3 separate regions of the Homo sapiens genome follow, and all the other regions are reported to be linked to region 1. The links are microRNA targets in miRTarBase. Many come from high-throughput screens and were not tested one by one. Region 1 holds a microRNA gene; each other region holds the end of a gene's coding sequence.
The links. The annotated mature microRNA hsa-miR-6512-3p reads UUCCAGCCCUUCUAAUGGUAGG and lies in region 1 at 2,759-2,780, opposite strand. An mRNA with a match to its seed (bases 2 to 7 or 8) in the 3' UTR can be bound and repressed. Matches are read on the target gene's strand: a 7mer-m8 pairs with bases 2 to 8, a 7mer-A1 pairs with bases 2 to 7 and ends in A, and an 8mer does both.

Region 2: the mRNA of SMARCA5 is a reported target of hsa-miR-6512-3p. Seed matches in the 3' UTR shown: 7mer-m8 at 1,051-1,057.
Region 3: the mRNA of UTP6 is a reported target of hsa-miR-6512-3p. Seed matches in the 3' UTR shown: 7mer-m8 at 2,222-2,228 and 7mer-m8 at 1,161-1,167.

What each region holds. Positions count from the first base shown.
Region 1 is chr2:177,311,053-177,315,202 of GRCh38, forward strand. It overlaps MIR6512 (microRNA 6512), which reads right to left and starts at 2,830; the gene lies at 2,754-2,830. It overlaps LOC100130691 (Putative uncharacterized protein FLJ44553), which reads right to left. Exons shown (of 9, transcript NR_026966.1): 7 at 181-276.
Region 2 is chr4:143,552,751-143,556,750 of GRCh38, reverse strand. SMARCA5 (SNF2 related chromatin remodeling ATPase 5) reads right to left here. Exons shown (of 24, transcript NM_003601.4): 24 at 1-3,632. The coding sequence ends at 3,567. Among named protein-coding and RNA genes, the nearest start is that of SMARCA5-AS1, 40 kb to the right of the region's middle.
Region 3 is chr17:31,860,041-31,864,040 of GRCh38, forward strand. UTP6 (UTP6 small subunit processome component) reads right to left here. Exons shown (of 19, transcript NM_018428.3): 19 at 864-3,476. The coding sequence ends at 3,319. Among named protein-coding and RNA genes, the nearest start is that of COPRS, 2.8 kb to the left of the region's middle.

The sequences.
Region 1 (4,150 bases):
AGGGAGGGAGAGAGAAGCAAAGTGGGAAGAGCTCCTTATAAAACCATCAGATCTATGAGAACTCACTCATTGTCATAAGAACAGCATGGGGGAACCTCCCCCATGATCCAATCACCTCCCACCAGGTCTCTCCCTCAACACCCGGGAATTACAATTCAAGATAAGAGGCCGGGCACTCACCTGTAATCCTAGCACTTTGGGAGGCCGAGGCGGGCAGATGGCCTGAGCTCAGGAGTTTGAGACCAGCCTGGGCAACATGGTGAAACCCCATCTCTACTAAAATACAAACAACAACAACAAAAATTAGCGGGCGTGGCAGCGTGTGCCTGTAGTCCCAGGTACTCAGGAGGCTGAGGCAGGAGAAGTGCTTGAACCCTGGAAGCAGAGGTTGCAGTGAGCTGAGATCGTGCCACTGCACTCCAGCATGGCGACAGAGCGAGACTCCATCTCAAAAAACAAAAACAAAAACAATTCAAGATGAAATTTGAGTGGGGACACAAAGCCTAAACATATCACTGTTTTACAGCGTAAACAGTCACCTAAGTTAACTGTGTTAGATATGGTTTCTTGCATACATTTTCACTACCTTCTCTATATACTCCATTTTTACTCTACAGAATTATAGAAACTGGAAGGCTCAAAACTATATTTCCCACTTTTCACCATCCATAAAAGTCACAATTGTAAATCTAAGTGGGACAATAACAGTTTCACAAGAAAACAGAAGAATACTCACGATTTTGGAATCCACAAAGATTTCTTAAACTGGAGACACACAAAATAAATAAGCCATAAAGGAAAACATCTGATAAACTAAACTAATTCAAAATTATGAATGTCTTCTTCAAAATACACTATTAAAAGAGTGAATAAAATAAGCCACAGAGTGGGCTGGGCACAGTGGCTCACGCCTGTAATCCCAGCACTTTGGGAGGCCGAAGCAGGCAGATCACAAGGTCAGGAGATTGAGACCATCCTGGCTCACATGGTGAAACCCCGTCTCTACTAAAAATACAAAAAATTAGCTGGGCATGGTGGCGGGCACCTGTAGTCCCAGCTACTTGGGAGGCTGAGGCAGGAGAATGGCGTGAACCCGGGAGGAGGAGCTTGCAGTGAGCCGAGATCACGCCACTGCACTCCAGCCTGGGTGACAGAGCAAGACTCCATCTCAAAAAAAAAAAACAAAAAACAAAAAGCCACATAGTGGCAAAAGATATTATCAATACATATACCCGACAAAGGACTCATATCCAGAATAAAGGACTATAAAAACAAGAAAAGGCAGACAAGCCCATAGAAAATCACACAAAACACATGAATAGGCATTTCACAGAAGAGGGTACCCAAATGGCCAATAAACAATTAAAAAGGTGTTTATTTGATATCAGAAAAATGAAAACAACAATGAGATTCAATACACTGCATTAGTCTTTGAAGAGAATGGCTAAAATTTAAAAGATGGAAAAGATCAAGTTTTGATGAAGATGTGAAAAACTGTTGGGCAGTACTACTCAAGCTGAACCCCATGCATCAGAGAAATTACACTTTTATATATCCAACTGAAATATGTGTGTGTGTGTGTGTTCACCAATGTTCACAGTGGCACTAGTTGCAGTAATCTCAAATTGGAAACAACCCAAATGTCCATCTTTGGTAGAACGTATAAATTGTGTTATATTCATACAATGGAATACTACACAGCAATGAAAATGAAGATACTATTATTACTCTCAACATGAATGAATCTCACAAATAGTTGAGTAGGAAAAGCCAGTAATAAAATAATACACACTGTATCATTCCATTTTGTCTAATGTTTAAAAATAGGCCAAATTGGTCTAGGGTATTAGAAGCCAAGATTACAGTCAATTTGAGGGAGGATAATGCCTAGAAAAGATAATGAAGGGAGCTTCTGGTATGGTAGTAGTTTCTGCCTCCCAATCTGGGTGCTAGCAATATGTAGGTGTGTTTACTTTATGAAAATTCATCAAGCTCTCTGATTATAATTTGTGCATTTTTCTGTCTGTATGCTATACTTCAATAAAGATAGATTTATACTGAGTTAGGAACAAAGCTCAATAACTATAATTCTAGGCTGAGCTGCTAATAGGATTTGTTAAACAATTTAAACTGTGCCAGTCAGATATAATGATGCGAAATTAGAAAGGTAAAAGGAAGAGAGAGGCTATTTCCCCTGCCTATTAGTTTTCCTTCCTTCCTTCCTTCCTCCCTTTTCTTTCTCTTCTTTCTCCTTCCTTCTTTCTCTTTCTCCTTCCTTCCTTCCTTCCTTTTCTTTCTCTTCTCCTTCCTTCCTTCCTTCCTCTTCTTTCCCTTCCTTCCTTTCTCTCTCTCTCTTTTTACCTTCCTCCTTCCCTCCCTCCTTCTCTCTCTCTATTTATTTATTTTTTGAGAAAGATTCTTGTTCTGTCCAGGCTGGAGTACAGTGGCACAATCACAACTCACTGCAGCCTAGACCTCCTGGGCTCAAGGATCCTCCCACCTCAGTGTCCCAAATGTTTGGGACTTCAGGCATGCACCAACATGCCTGGCTGCCTATTAGTTTTCACTGGTAGTTGTTGATGTACGTGCAACATTAAATGTGGTTTTTAATGACCAGACTTTCTGTGCCTCTGCATTGCCACTAACTTCATCTGTGAGAAATGACTGTGATGCCAGCAGTGGACTTTATAGCTTCCTGACCTCTAGATTGTAGCTGTGTGGACTGAACTGCGAGCCCAACAGCATCCCTCTTAATGCTCCTACCATTAGAAGGGCTGGAAGAAGGCATCTCCCTCAGCCTTCTTCCAGCTCTTCTAATGGTAAGAGCATATAATTTTTAAGCATATAATTCTTAGCATTCAGTACCTAGAGAAGTGTCTGCACTGAACCCCAACTGATATATCAGTTAATAACACAACTGATAGGTTATCTAGTAGGTTTATGGTTGGTTGTAAGAATCTTTGGGAAAGAAAATTACCATTGGCAATCCTACCACCTAGGATCATCATTATCATGGGAAAGTTCTGCTTTAGAGGCAACCTAAATCTATTTTGAGGTCCTGAAAATGCATTTACTTCACAGGATATGCTGGTTTCTGCTGCCATTCAAAAATTATTCTTAAGGCATTCTTTGTTCTCTTTTCACTAGCTAAATAATGCCGTGCTTTTAACTTTTCTTTATGTGTTCAGCAGCTTTTCCCAGTTGTGGATATTTGAAAAAAGTATTCATATAAATACTGCCTGTTCTGGTAGGATTAGCTGTCCCTTTCTTTTGGTTATATTCCCAAGTTCATTCTTGCTTATCTAACCAAAGCCCTACATTGCTGACTCAAGTTTAGTTTATGGTCCAAGCCCAGTATCATGTTACTATTAGCCAAGATTTCCCATGGGTTGAGGCAGACTTGTAGAAGATTGAAAAATAAAACTTACTGGCCATAAGTAAGACTTTTTATCTGGCCTTCCAGTACAGAACATTCTCTAATATAGCAGCTTATAAACAATGAGAATCAGAAGCCTAAAAAAATTAGTTAATAGCCAAACAGTGACTGAATCATGGAATTGTACAGTTAGAATGGACCTTAGAAGCAGTCTATATAAGCCAGGTATAGTGGCTCATGCCTGTAATCTCAGCACTTTGGGAGGCCAAGGCAGGAGGATCTCTTGAGCCCTGGAGTTTGAGACCAGCCTGGCCAAAATGGTGAGACCCCATCTCTACTAATTTTTTTAAAAAGTCTATATACATACCAGAACACAGAGCTCAGATATGTATGCAGGATTCCAGTCCGTGCTGAATACTCTTCCAGTATGAGTACTCTTCCTACTCCTCAAGGTGTGTGGCCCTCAAAGCAGCAGCATCAGCACTTACCTGGGAGCTTGTTAGAAAGCCAGAATCTCAGGCTCCAACACCCACTGAAGCAGAATTTGCATGTAACACCCCCACCCCTTCTTGATTTGTATGCATGTTGAAATTTGTGGAGTTAGAGACAAAAGCACCACAGGTGCATGTCTTACTATTTAAAGTCTTGCCTAATTATATAACATAGAAACCTGATCCCTTCTGGACAAGGCCTGTATTATTACAGGTCCTGGTCTAATAGAGTATTTGAATAGCTGGGTTAAAGAAAAAGAAAACTCTCTTTAATAATCTTTGG
Region 2 (4,000 bases), not on the chromosome of region 1:
TGCTCCACACCAAGAATGTATTTTGCCCATTATCTGTCATCTGAGGGATGCCCTCACCTTTGATCTTGACATCAGATTCCAACAGGCAAAGATACATTTTGGTAACAGCTATGTACATATACAAAATATGTATATATTTTGGTAACAGCTACTCCGTTAATACATGTCTTCTAGCATTCCATTCATTTGGATTTATGAGTTCATCAATCCACCTTGTGTCATTAATCTACTTTGTTTAAATTACCCTCCTTAGTACCCATTTTTTTAGCAATGTTCTACTCCAAAACTACTGGTTTGAAATATAGTAGCACATCCTTTCAAAAAGATTTGTTTTTTAGATTCAAAGGGATAGAACAAGATGAAATTTATTTTTTACTCAGAATTTTTCTGAAAAACCACAGGGGTGTTTTACAATGCTTTTTAAGATCGAGATTAAGAAAGGTACTAAGCCAAAGATCATTTATATAATCATTTATATAATTAAATCCAGATTAGTTCAAACAATCGGCATATATTAAATACTCAAAGGGCAGATGGAGCAATCCTTATCTGAAATGCCTGGAACCAGAAGTGTTTTTAGCATTTTCCAGACTTTAGAATACTTGCATTATACTTATCAGTTCAGCATCCCTAATCCAAAAATCAGAAATGCCCTAATGAGCATTCAAATTATGGAGCATTTCTGATTTTAGATTTTTTGATTAGGGATGCTCAACTTGTACTCTATGCTTAGGATTTGCTTCTCTCAACTTTATGAAAAACAAAATGTAGGCCAGGTGTGGTGTAGGCTCACAACTATGATCCCAGCACTTTGGAATGTAGGCTTACACATGTAATCCCAGCACTTTGAGAGGTTGACGCAAGAGGATTGCCTGAAGTCGGCGTTTGAGACCGGACTGGGCAACATAGCAAGGCCCTATCTCTACAAAAACTAAAAAAACTTAGCTGGGCGTGGTATCTGTAGTCCTAGCTACTTGGGAAGCTGAGGTGGGAGGATCACTTGAGCCCTGAAGTTTGAGGTTGCAGTGAGCTGTGATTGCACCACTGCACTCCAGCCTGGGTGACAGAGCAAGACCCTGTCTCTTAAAAGTAGTAATAATTACACTTTATAATAGCCTCCAGCACTTTGTCAGATGTACAATTAAGCAATCTTTCATGCTTTGTTGTTAAAAAAAAAAAAAGACATTTATTCAGTATCATGATCAGATTATTAAAACATTTAGCAATCAACAGCATGGGTACAAAACAAAACAATCTACACTGAAACCCTGTGTTGGAATGCTTTACTTTCCACAGAACAGAAACTATTATACAATTAGTCACAAATACAGTCATCAAGTTCTGTGATCGTGGTGGCTTTGGTGGCAGCCATGGTGGTGGTGATGGATATGGTGGCAGTGGGGATTGCTATAATAGATTTGGTAATGATTGAAGCAATTTTGGAGGTGGTAAAAGCTACAATGATTTTGGCAATGACAACAATCAGTCTTCAAATTTTGGACCCATGAAGGGAGGAAACTTTGGAGGCAGAAGCTCTGGGCCCTATGGTGGTAGAGGCCAATACTTTGCCAAACCACGATACCAAGGTGGCTAAGGCAGTTCCAGTAGCAGTAGTGGTTAAGGCAGTTCCAGTAGCAGTAGTAGCTGTGGCACTGACAGAAGATTTTAATTACTGCCAGGAAACAAAAGCTTAGCGGGAGAGGAAAGCCAGAGAAGTGACAGGGAAGTGACAGGTTAAAACAGATTTGTGAACTTGGCCAAACACAGTGGTGGCAGGGCCTAGCTGGTTCATGCTTTTTTTTCAAGTGAGTTTCCCTTCACACAGTTTCCATTTGAGTCCCTAAGCTCTCAGGGCTACCACTATACTTGATTCATTTTGCATTTCCACTGTGTATCTCCCTCCCAGTTTCTCCTCCTCTTGAAAACATCACTTTTGTGACCTCCGTAAGTTTTCTTCAGCCTTACATTTTTTCAATTTCTTCCAAACTGAGGTGATAACTCTTACAAATTCTTTTTCCTTTCATAAGTAACCATTCCTCATGCATGTATTAGACCTTTAACTGTTAAGAATCTAACATAGTATTTAAAAAGTTAATTTTGAGGTAGCACTAAATTCAAATTACTTTACAATTTGCCATAAATACTGCGTTTTGCTTGACATTAACAGCAGCAATTCCACATTTCAAGAAATTAAGCAGTATTAGTAATACTGCAGGTATCAAAATTTTTTTTTTAAATCTTCAATTACATGTGGGCAGATGAAAACAACTACTAATAGAAATTTAAGGGAAAGATATCCAATTAAGGGAAATGTGTCCTAAAGGAAAAAGTGAATAAAAATTGAGAAAACAATTAAAGAAATGGAAAGAAAAGACCACTTTACGGATTATAAAAGTTATATTTATTCACGATGCTACATTTATTGCATTCCCTTAGAAAAATGGAGAACTGTTTATGTACCCAATCTGCACATATAAAATTTTATACAAATTATGTGTAGCACATAAAGGCCTCTGGTACAGCTAAAATCCTGACACTATAATTTGGGTATTCCTGCTTTAGGGTCTCCAGTTTATCAGGTCTGTCCATAGAAAACAGAAACTGGAATTATAGTCAGTCTTGCTAACACTTAGAAACTACTTTAAAATACAATAAAATTTTCATTTACCCTAAAAGTCCAAATGGGAGGGGATATATTTTGTTACCAATTTCAATGTAACAGTATGACAAATTCACACCTCATTTTGGCTGGGCTTTCAAAATTAAAAAAAAAAAATCACCTTAGTTCTGACATTATCTAAGTTGTGGCTGCTTCAGAAGGTCATATGACAAAATATTTACCAAATAATTAAAAATAATAATAATAATATTCCTTTTACAAAATGGTACAGTAATACCTTAAGGAACCGGAAAATACTAAATGTCTTTGGCTATACAACTAAAAGGCCATTCTTTCAAAAGAATAGGGCATATTCATTTCAGAATCAACTAAAAAAAACAGAAAGCATAACAGAAATATGCATAGAATTTAAGTATACTTTGTCTTGCCTTCTTTTCCCATTCTACCCACATAAGCAAGGAGAATGCAATTTATATAATCTTTCCAGATGAGACTCAATAGCACTACAAAGAAAATACCCAAATTTCTGCAAAGGCAAAGTGAATTAAAATAATTACACAACTAGGTGAAGACTGAAAGGGACAAATGTTATTTGCAATTTTCTTTTTAACTTGTTTTTAAGCCTTACAAGTGTAGAAATTATAGCTAATAAACAAAAAGTCACAATCTTCACAAATGGAACTACAATAGAAAAATAAATCAAATGAAACACTTAGTAATAAATGAAGCCTATTTTATTACTTCAAGTGTTAATGATAAAAAAATTTCAGCACAGCTGTTGCATTTAAAAAAGTGAAACTACATACTATGTTTCTAGCTCAGTAAACAGATGAACCTGATGTCTTTAAATGACATAACAATTGAGCATTGTACAGTACATCTTATGAAGACCCGTAAATTAAAGAACTACTGGTTTAAAGTTAGTGATTATGAAACAAAAACATATTCATAGTTTCAGCTTCTTTTTTCTTCCTCGACCATCAGGTGCGCCATCCATTTTACGTTTCTGTGTCTACAAACAGACAGAAGGATTACTTTTCACAAGACTAATATAAACATGAAATATAGTTGCAGACACATTATAACACTTTAGTAATAACAACTACTACAAAGTAATAGGTATGAGACTTTTCCCCCAGGCTATATAAATCTTTCAAAGCAAACTATAAAGCCTCCAAATAATCTTACCTACTTATTTTACTTACAGAATAAAAAATGTTAATGTTAATAATGACGTTATAAAACTAATGCACAATTAACAGTAGTAGATCAATATCAAATAAATGCAAGCTTCCCAAAATAGTAAGAAACACTTGAGTTTTTAAAAGGCAGTTACATAAGTACCAAATATTATCCAGAGATACTCATTTATTCATGACT
Region 3 (4,000 bases), not on the chromosome of region 1:
GTTCTATATGTAGATGTTCCTACACAGGAGTCAGTATCCCCAAGGCTAACTGCCTCTAGGTCAGCAATGTCCAATAGAACGTTCTTTAATGGTGGAAGTGGAAATGAAAGTTCTACTATCTGTACTGTCCAATATAGTAACCATATACCTACTGAGCACTTGAAATGTGGCCAATGTGAATAAATTGAATAATTCTAATAAATTTAAATTGCTACATGTGCCTTGGAGCTACTGTTTCTAACAGTGCAACTCTAGGTGTACTAGCTAGATGTGTTTTCATAACCTGCAATATTGAGAATCAGATACAGGGATGTGATGACCCCAGGTGACCACCCTTATAGCCTTGTGTTAAGGAGACTACCACTATCCTCTTTGCTCCCTAATCTACATATCTCTTTCGTAAAATTAAAGTGCCAAATAAGATTAAGAATGTTAAACATCCCAGGACTTAAGGGACAGGAAAAAGAGGAATTTTTTTCTTATTTTAAAACAAATGACAAGAAAACAGGGGCTGGCCGCGGTGGCTCACTCCTGTAATTCCAGCACTTTGGGAGGCCGAGGCAGGCAGATCACTTGAGGTCAGTTCAAGGCTATCCTGGCCAACATGGTGAAACCCCATCTCTACTAAAAATACAAAAATTAGCCAGGCGTGGTGGCACACACCCATAATCCCAGCTACTCGGGAGGCTGAGGCAGGAGAATCACTTGAGCCCGGGAGGTGGAGGGTGCAGTGAGCAGAGATTGCCCCACAGCACTCCAGCCTGGGCGACAGAGTGAGACTTGGTCTAAAAAAAAAAAAAACCAGAAAGAAAAAGAAAACAGTACAAAAGCTTAAAATAAAAATGTTCTAAAGTAGACTCTAATACTCATAGAAATTTAATATATAATAAAGGTAACATCACAAATCAGCAGAGAGAAACATAACTGCCCAAATAGTGTTGGCAAAATTAACTGCTTGGGGAAAAAGAGTTGTTCTCAGCACCAGGAAGAGCTTCCAAAGCATTTTAAAAACAGACATCACACATACACACACAAAATACCTCTGGGCATCAAAAATCGCCACAAAAGGTGCCTATAATCCCAGCTACTTGGGAGGCTTTGGCAGGGAGAACTGTTTGAACCTAGGAGGCAGAGGTTGCAGTAAGACCACACCACTGCACTCCAGCCTGGACCACAGAGCAAGACTCTGTCTCAAAAAAAAAAAATCACCACAAACAAGGCTGGGGGTAAAATTATTTGCAACAAATGAGAAACAAGATATTAATATTCTGAATATGTTTTTAAAAACTCTGGCCAGGCACAATGGCTCATGCCTATAATACCAGCACTTTGGGAGGTTGAGGTAGGAGGATTGTTTGAGCCCAACTGTTTAAGAGACCAGCCCTGGCAACATAGCAAGACCAGTCTCTACAAAAAAAAATTTAAATTAACCAGGCATGGTGGTGTGCACCTGCAGTCCCAGCTACTCAAGAGGCTGAGGTGGGAGGATCTCTTGAGCCCAGAAGTTAAGGCTGTAGTGAGCCATGATCACACCACTGCACTCTAGCCTAGGTGACAAAGCAAGAACTTGTCCAATTTAAAAAAAAAAATTAACTCATAAATTAGTAAGAAAAAAAATTTTTAAATAGTCTAAGGATGTAAAAAGATGAGAAACATAAAATACACTAACTTCACTAATATCAAAGTATGGTAAAACAATGACATATCACATTTCACCTATAAAATGGTAAAAATAAAAGATATAATTACACCAGTACAGGTAAGGGTACTGACACTTTCATGTATTGCTTGAAAGAAGGAGCAAACCAGCAATACATATCAGTATTCTCTAAAAGCAGTATCCTTTGATCCAGTAATTCCACTGTCGGATGTCAATCTCCTAAGGAAATGGCCAGGGATGTGAACAAAGATTGACAAGAATCTTCATCAACAGCATTTATCTAATTTTTAAAAAAATTAGAAATGACAGTCCAGGCCAGGCTTAGTGGTTCACGCCTGTAATCCCAACACTTTGGGAGGCCAAGGCGGGTGGATCATGAGGTCAGGAGTTCGCAACCAGCCTGGCCAATATGATGAAACCCCCGCACTACTAAAAATACAAAAATTGGCTGGGCGCGGTGGCGGGTGCCTGTAATCCCACCCAGCTGCTCGGGAGGCTGAGCCAGAACCACTTGAACCCGGGAGGTGGAGGTTGCAGTGAGCCGAGATGGAGCCACTGCACTCCAGCCTGGATGACAGAGCAAGGCTCCATCTCAAAAAAAAAAAGACAGTCTAACCAGAGGATTAGTAAAATATATTATGGCTCATTTTTACAATGTAATGTTACGAATTCATTAAATGTTTTTAAGGCTATTTAATGACACAGAAAAACAATACTAAGTGAAACGTAACAATAAGCTACACTGAAAGCTTCTCCCAGTGACAGGATGCTTTTTTTTACCACACTATTCTATTTCCTCCATATTTTCCAGAACAAATGCATACCACGTATCTTTTATAATGAGAATAAACCAACAAAACTGTACTTTCTCCTTTTTTTTTTTCCTTGAGAAGGAGTTTCGCTCTTCTTACCCAGGATGGAGTAGCAATGGCATGATCTCGGCTCACTGCAACCTCCGTCTCCCAGGTTCAAGCAATTCTCCTGCCTCAGCCTCCCAAGCAGCTGGGATTACAGGCACCCACCACCACACCTGGCTAATTTTTGTATTTTTAGTAGAGACGGGGTTTCACCATGTTGGCCAGGCTAGTCTCAAACTCCTGACCTCAGGTGATCCGCCTGCCTCAGCCTTCCCAAAGTGCTGGGATTACAGGCGTTGAGTCACCATGCCTGGCCACTTTCTCCTTCATTTTAACTGGCTCTTAGGTCGAGATTAGAGATACTCATGCTTGACCTGGGATAATTTTAAAAAAACCCAGTCGTATGCTATCCATGTATTTTGGGAAACATTTAGGACCTGTGGAAGATCGGGCCTCAACATTAAATCAGCAATTCTCTTTACTGGAATCAGATTAGCACATCAAACTGAGCAGTGTCATGCACCTATAATCCCAGCTACTCAGGAGTCTGAGGTGAGAAGGTCACTTGAGTCCAGGAGTTCAAGACCAGCCAGGGCAACAGAGCAAGACCCAGTCTCAATCATAAAAATTTTTTAATTTTTAAAAAGATTTAACAAGTTAACATAAAATTAAAGTGTGTCTCAAAACCAGACAGCCATCTTGTCTGCCATCACTGAGCAAATTACAGATGGACTCAATACAAATTTGCCCACGGGGCTTGCTTGCAATACTATTTCACAAAGCTGACTGTATTCTTCATCTTCATAAATGGCCAGTCTGATGCATAGCATGTTTAGCTACAAATGCCTCTGCTGACTCTCCCTGCAACATTTTCATCGCTCGCCAGTAGATCTGTCCACAGTTCTCAGGTCTACCAAGGGGGTGGTTCAATTCTTCTTTCATATAATCCATCCAAAGATCTTTTAAAAAAAAAACATACAATTAGATAACTGACAGAGTGTTATTAGGTAACCTTATTAAATATCAATTCAACTCAAGATTTCTAAGAAACTTAACTTCTCATTGTTACTTCCCTAGGACGCTTTGTTTAACAATACCTCTCTTAGCTTCTTTAAAGTATAGTGGCAGGTTTTGGTTTGTTTTTGTGTGTTTTTTTCTTTTTTGAGACAGGGTCTCACTGTGTTGCCCCGGCTAGAGTGTAGTAGCGGGAACATGGCTTACTACAGTCTCAACCTCCTGAGTTCAAGTGACCCTCCTGCCTCAGCCTCCAGGGCAGCTGGGAACACAGGCACACCACCATATTAGGCTAATTTTTTTATTTTTTGTAGAAACAGGGTTTCACTATATTGCCCAGGCTAGTCTTGAACTCCTGGGCTCAAGCAATCCTTCTACCTTGGCCTTCCAAAGTGCTGGGATTACAGGCGTGAGCCACTGTGCCTCATCAGTTTTGTTTTTTTGTTTTTTGTTTTTTTTCCCAGTAGAA